2 linked regions of the Homo sapiens genome follow. Changing the gene in region 2 together with the main gene of any one other region gives a genetic interaction. Each region holds a gene or a part of one and is shown on either strand. Other genes may lie near its edges.

Region 1 (3,652 bases), on a different chromosome or scaffold from region 2:
CCTTGAGCTAAACACAGGGTGCTGATTGGTGTGTTTACAAACCTTGAGCTAGATACAGAGTGCCGATTGGTGTATTTACAATCCCTGAGCTAGACATAAAGGTTCTCCACGTCCCCACCAGAGCAGCTAGATACAGAGTGTAGATTGGTGCACTCACAAACCTTGAGCTAAACACAGGGTGCTGACTGGTGTATTTACAATCCCTGAGCTAGACATAAAGACTCTCCACGTCCCCACCAGACTCAGGAGCCCCGCTGGCTTCACCTAGTGGATCCCGCACCGGGGCTGCAGGTGGAGCTGCCTACCAGTCCTGCACGTACGCTTGCTTTCCTCAGCCCTTGGGTGGCTGATGGGACTGGGCGCCCTGGAGCAGGGGGTGGTGCTCGTCAGGGAGGCTGGGGCCGCACAGGAGCCCATGGAGTGGGTGGGAGGCTCAGGCATGGCGGGCTGCAGGTCCCGAGCCCTGCTGCGCGGGAAGGCAGCTAAGGCCTGGCGAGAAATCGAGCTTAGCGCCGGTGGGCTGGCACTGCTGGGGGACCCAGTACACCCTCCGCAGCTGCTGGCCCGGGTGCTAAGTCCCTCATTGCACGGGGCCAGCAGAGCTGGCCGGCTGCTCCGAGTGCGGGGCTTGCCAAGCCCACGCCCAGCCGGAACTCCAGCTGGCCCGCAAGCGCCGCACGCAGCCCTGGTTCCCGCTCGCGCCTCTCCCTCCACACCTCCCTGCAAGCTGAGAGAGTGGGCTCCAGCCTTGGCCAGCCCAGAAAGGGGCTCCCACAGTGCAGTGGTGGGCTGAAGGGCTCCTCAAGTGCTGCCAAAGTGGGAGCCCAGGCAGAGGAGGTGCCGAGAGCAAGTGAGGGCTCTGAGGACTGCCAGCACGCTGTCACCTCTCACTTGTGCAAGTATTTTGGTAAGATCATTTTCTAAAAGTAGGGATTCTGGGTCAAAGGTTATATATATTTAAATTTTTGACAGATATTACCAAAATGCCCTCCAAAAAAAAAACTGTACTGATGTAGATTATCTGTAGCCACGGAGGACACACTTCTCCATCCCGCCCTGGATGATACTGGCTACTACTTACCTATCAACTGTGTTTCTCTGCTCCAGTTCTGCCAAGACCTATGAGGCCTTCCGGAGAGGGAGGCCTTGAACTCACACCCTTGCTTTCATCTGCTAACAGCATTACATGTAAAAAATATTCTTTTTAGCAAAGAGTGACAAAAGGTGCTGCTGCTAAACGGAGTATGAAAATCACTGCACTACAAAATGCCCAGAACGTGTTCATCCACTCCCGAACCCTCGACACGGGGACCACCTCCCCAGTCAGCCTTCCTTCCTGTACTTGAGTTTCCTCCCTCCACAGTTACCAAGTCATTCCTGCCTGGAGTCTGGCAGATGGCAAATATCCAGCATAGACTTGCTGTCAGCAGGGGACGGGGGGAGGGTGCAGTCCCACCTACACACTCTACTGGCCACGCTAGGACCCCCAGGCTTGCACCTGTGTGCCCCCTTCTTCCAGCCACCATCCTGCCAGCTCCATCTCCTCTAGACCAGCCACCTCCCATTGCCACTGCCTTCCTGTGGACCCAGGTCCTCCCCTCTTCTGAAACACTTCTGCCCCACCTACCTTTAGAAACCCAAGTCTGAGCAGGTCACTATGCTGCTTAAAAATCCCAGATGGCGGCCGGTGGCTCACGCCTGTAATCCCAGCACTTTGGGAGGCTGAAGTCAGCAGATCACTTGAGGCCAGCCCCGTCTCTACTAAAAATACAAAAAAAAAATTTTTTTTTGTATTTTTACAAAGGCGTGGTGGCGTGTGCCTGTAGACAGAGACGAAACCCTGTCTCTACTAAAAATACAATTTTTTTTTGTTTTGTTTTTTACAAAGGCATGGTGGCGTGTGCCTGTAGTCCCAGCTACTTGGGAGGCTGAGGCACGGAAATCAAGTGATTCAAGTGAACCTGGGAGCCAGAGATTGCAGTGAGCCAAGACACGCCACTGTACTCCAGCCTGGGCGACAGAGTGAGACTCCATTTCAAAAATAAAAAATAAAATAAAATAATTCCAGATGGCCTCCTACCCACAGATAACACCTTTCAGGCAAATTCAAACTGTGAAGGAGACCCCCCCAGTGCCACCACAAGTGCTTCCAGCCTTCCTAGGCAAAGCTTCCCACCCTTCCCAGGACCCACGTAAATGCTTGCCTGGCATTTCTCACGCCCACTAAGGAAGTGCTGACTCGCGAAGGCCTGCCTTCGTGGGGCTTGCCTCTGCTGGGGCCCACCTTCTGGTTATAAGTCATACTGAGTGGATGGAAATGACATGGCAGAGGAGTGAAGAGGCTTTTAGGCAGACTGGAAACACCTCATCTGAGCAGTCTATGAACACCCCCTATCTGTGGCTGCTCATCCTGCTCCCTGGGGTGTGGCTGAGGGAGAAGAAAGTGAACGGCAGAGGCCTGCAGTAACTGCATGCGGACTATCCCCGGGAAGCCAGTGTGGGCACTTAGCGGGGGCCGCTTCCTGCACAACCCGGGAACGGGTCTCAGCTGGCATGGAAGGCCAGGGCAGATTAAAATAGATACTTGAGTGGGAAGAAGACAGTCAATAACACCCTGTTCCCACAAAAGAGGTCTGGCTGGGGCTCTGAGGTCTTGCTGACCTGCTGAAGCGGCCAGGCCAAGCTGGAGGGGCCAGACAGCGTGCTCATCACTTGAGCCCCATCTGTGGTGGCAAGGACGGCTCCCCTCTACCTACCTAGCAGCCTTAGACCTTGTAAAGAATTAAAACATTGAATTTAAAAAATGTTTTTAAAGTACCCAATGTCGACAGATTACTCTTACAAAGTGAGCCAAAACCATCACGCAAGGCAGCAACAACTGTAATTCAGAAGGCCTAGGCTGAGCTACTTCATTCCAAACTCAGATTCAAATTTGTTAAGTTTGAAGGAAAAAATAATAATTTTCCCCAATCTAACAGACCCCATTTCATTACTCCTTTATGATGCATTTTTAAAATGTAGCATCTATATATATCAAGAAAGTCTCAAAGTTGGGATTTATAATATTTCTTATAGGCATGAAAATGGGATTTCTTTTCCCTTTCCTCATTCTTTTTTTTTTTTTTGAGATGGAGTCTCGCTCTGTCGCCAGGCTGGAGTGCAATGGTGCGATCGTGGCTCACTGCAACCTCCGCCTCCCGGGTTCAAGCGATTCTCCTGCCTCAGCCTCCCTAGTAGCTGGGATTACAGGCGTGCACCACCACATCCAGCTAATTTTTGTATTTTTAGCAGAGACAGGGTTTCACCGTGTTGGCCAGGATGGTCTCGATCTCCTGACCTCGTGATCCACCCGCCTCGGCCTCCCAAAGTGCTGGGATTACAGGTGTGAGCCACCGTGCCCAGCCTCCCTTTCCTCATTCTTTAAAAATAACATAAATGTGTAGTTTAATTTTTCATTCAACTGCGGGAAAGACACTAGAAGAGATGAAAGTGCTATGGGTTCCAACTCCAAGCAGGGCTGTCCCAGCCAGAGCACTCCCAGAACCAGGTGGGTCCCTGGGGGTACAGGAGAGGCTCTGGTTCACAGGGCTCTGTGCAGCATTTCTGTGGGCACTTCTAGTGGAGGGGCTGGAGGGTCTGCCAGCCTGGAGGA
Region 2 (3,652 bases):
CCTGCCTCAGCCTCCCGATTAGCTGGGACTACAGGCGCCCGCGACCACGCCCAGCTAAGTTTTTTTGTATTTTTTTAGTAGAGATGGGGTTTCACCGTGTTAGCCAGGATGGTCTCGATCTCCTGACCTTGTGATCCACCCGCCTTAGCCTCCCAAAGTGCTGGGATTACAGGCGTGAGCCACCGCGCCCGGCCATTTTTTTGTATTTATTTTTAGTAGAGACGGAGTTTCACTATGTATTTTTAGTAGAGATGGCATTTCTTCATGTTGGCCAGGCTGGTCTCAAACTCTTTTTTTTTTTTTTTTTTTTTTGAGATGGAGTCTCGCTCTTTTGCCCAGGCCGGACTGCAGTGGCGCTATCTCGGCTCACTGCAAGCTCCACCTCCCGGGTTCACGCCATTCTCCTGCCTCAGCCTCCCGAGTAGCTGGGACTACAGGGGCCCACCACCGTGCCTGGCTAATATTTTTTGTATTTTTAGTAGAGACGGGGTGACTGTGTTAGCCAGGATGATCTTGATCTCCTGACCTCGTGATCCGCCCGCCTCGGCCTCCCAAAGTGCTGGGATTACAAGCGTGAGCCACCTCGCCTGGCCAGTCTTGAACTCTTGACCTTAGGTGATCTGCCCATCTCAGCCTCCCTAAGTGCTAGGATTACAGGCGTGAGCCACCGGACCTGGCCTGTTTTTGCTTTTGAGACACAGTTTTGCTCTGTCACCTAGGCTGTAGTGCAGTGGCACAATCATAGCTCACTGTAGCCTTGAACTCCTGGGCTCAAACGATCTTCCCACCTCAGCCTCCTGAGTCGCTGGGACTACAGGTGTGTGCCACCACGCACAGCTAATTTTCATATTTTTATGGTAGAGACGGGGTTTCACCATGTTGGCCAGGTTGGTCTGGAACTCCTGACCTCAAGTGGCCCACCCCCTTGCCTTCCAAAGTGCTGGGATTACAGGCATGAGCCACCGTGTCCGGCCGTTGGTCTTAAACTCTTGAGCTCAAATGATTCTCCTACTTCAGCCTCCTGAGGATTACAGGTGTGCATCACCATACCTGGCTTGGCTTTTTTTTTTTTTTTTTTTTTGAGATGGAGTCTCGCTCTGTCGCCCAGGCTGGAGTGCAGGGGTGCAATCTCGGCTCACTGCAAGCTCCACCTCCCGGGTTCACGCCATTCTCCTGCCTCAGCCTCCCGAGTAGCTGGGACTACAGGCGCCCACCACCACACCCGGCTAATTTTTGTTTTTGTATTTTTAGTAGAGACGGGATTTCACCGTGTTAACCAGGCTGGTCTTGAACTCCTGACCTCAGGTGATCTGCCTGCCTCGGCCTCCCAAAGTGCTGGGATTACAGGCCTGAGCCACCGCGCCTGGCCTCTGAGTTTTCTGTTTGTTTCTTTTTTTTTTTTTTTTGAGATGGAGTCTCGCTCTGTCGCCCAGGCTGGAGTGCAGTGGCACGATCTTGCCTCACTGCAAGCTCTGCCATCCAGGTTCATGCGATTCTCCTGCCTCAGCCTCCGAGTAGCTGGGACTACAGGTGCCCACCACCATATCCAGCTAATTTTTTGTATTTTTAGTAGAGACGGGGTTTCACCATGTTAGCTAGGATGGTCTCGATCTCCTGACCTCGTGATCCGCCTGCCTCAGCCTCCCAAAGTGCTGGGATTACAGGCGTGAGCCAACGCGCCCGGCCTCTTTTGTTTCTTTTTTTTTTTTGAGACAGAGTCTCACTCTGTCGTCAGGCTGGATACAGTGGCGTGATCTCGGCTCACTGCAACCTCTGTCTCCGGGTTCAAATGATTCTTCTGCCTCAGCCTCAGCCTCCTGAGTAGCTGGGACTACAGGCACGCACAACCACACCCGGCTAATTTTTGTATTTTTAGTAGAGATGGGATGTCTGAGTTTATTTTTTAAGAGACAGGGTCTTGCTCTGTCACCTATGGTGGAGTGCAGAGGTGCCACTGTAACCTCAAATTCCTGGGCTCATGTGATTCTCCTGCCTCAGCCTCCCAAAGCACTGAGATTATACGCACGAGCCAACTCACCCATCTTGTTTTTTAAAATGAAATCATTTTCTAAAATGGCAAATAGACTAAAAAAGGAAAAAATAAGCAATCACAATAGAATGTTGTGGAAAAAAACAAGTGACAGCTCTGGGCCAGCACAGTGGTTCCCACCTGTAATCCCAGCACTTTGGGAGGCCAAAGCAGGCGGATCACCTGAGGTCAGAAGTCCGAGACCAGCCTGGCCAACACGGTGAAACCCCGTCTCTACTAAAAACAAAAAAATTAGCCAGCTGTGGTGGTGGGCACCTGTAATCCCAGTTACTGAGGAGGCTGAGGCAGGAAAATCGCTTGAATCCAGGAGGCAGAGATTGCAGTGAGCTGAGATTGTGCCACTGTACTCCAGCCTGAGCAACAGAGTGAGACTCCATCTCCAAAAAAAAAAAAAGTGGAAGCTCCGAAGAAACCAGCATGAGTTGGAATTTTGATCCGACCACTTCGTAGGTGTGTAACTTGGGCAAATCTCTGAAATGCTCCATGTCTTGGTTTTCCTCCTCTGTAAAATGGGATTATATTAATGGCCACCTCAAAGTAAGGCTACTTCTAGGGTATACAGAGCCCTGGATAAATATTTCTTGTAGCCAGGTGTGGTGGCTCACGCCTGTAATCCTGGTACTTTGGGAGACCAAGGCGGGAAGATTGCTTGAGCCCAGGAGTTTAAGACCAGCCTGGGCAACATAGCGAGACCTCATCTCTACCAAGAAAAGATATAAAAATTAGCCAAGCATGGTAGCTCACGCCTGTAGTCTCAGCTACTCAGGAGACTGAGGTGGGAGGATCACTTGAGCCCAGGAGCTGGAGTTTGTGATAAGCAGAGATCGTGCCACTGAAGTCCAGCCTGGGTGACAGAGTGAGACCCTGTCTCTAAAAAAAGAAAAAAAAAAAAAAAAGGCCAGGTGCGGTGGCTCACACACGTAATCCCAGCACTTTGGGATGCCAAGTCGGGCGGATCACTTGAGGTCAGGAGTTCAAGACCAGCCTGACCAACATGGTGAAACCCCATCTCTACAAAAAATACAAAAATTATCTGGGCATGGTGACACATGCCTATAATCCCAGCTACTTGGGAGGCTGAGGAATGAGAATCACTTGAACCCGAGAGGCGGAGGTTGCAGTGAGCCGAGATCATGCCACTATACTCCAGCCTGATGACAGAGTGAGACTCTGTCCCCCACCCCCAAAAAAAAAAAAAAGGGGGCTTGGCGTGGTGGCTCAAGCCTGTAATCCCAACACTTTGGGAGGCTGAGGTGGGCGGATCACGTGAGGTAAGGAGTTCCAGACCAGCCTGGCCAACATGGTGAAACCCTGTCTCTACTAAAAATACAAAAATTAGCCAGCGTGGTGGTGCACCCCTGTAATCCCAGCTACTTCGGAGGCTGAGGCATGAGAATCGCTTGAACCCAGGACATGGAGGCTTGCAGTGAGCCGAAATCTTGCCACTGCACTTCAGCCTGGGCGATAGAGCCAGACTCAGTCTCAAAAACAAAAAAGGACTGGGCGGTGGGGGGCGGGCGTGGGCGCAGTGTCTCATGCCTGTAATCCCAGCACAGTTAGGGAGGCCAAGGCAGGCAGATCACCTGAGCTCAGGGGTTCGAG

What was found. A genetic interaction does not mean that the proteins touch.
Region 1: changes in KEAP1 (region 2) and MED9 together harm fitness more than expected from each alone (negative genetic interaction), as found in Homo sapiens cells (one large-scale study listed by BioGRID).

The regions. Positions count from the first base shown.
Region 1 is NC_000017.11:17,483,409-17,487,060, reverse strand, and holds part of MED9 (mediator of RNA polymerase II transcription subunit 9), read right to left. Parts: intron 1-3,652.
Region 2 is NC_000019.10:10,493,268-10,496,919, forward strand, and holds part of KEAP1 (kelch-like ECH-associated protein 1), read right to left. Parts: intron 1-3,652. UniProt on the Homo sapiens protein: Substrate-specific adapter of a BCR (BTB-CUL3-RBX1) E3 ubiquitin ligase complex that regulates the response to oxidative stress by targeting NFE2L2/NRF2 for ubiquitination.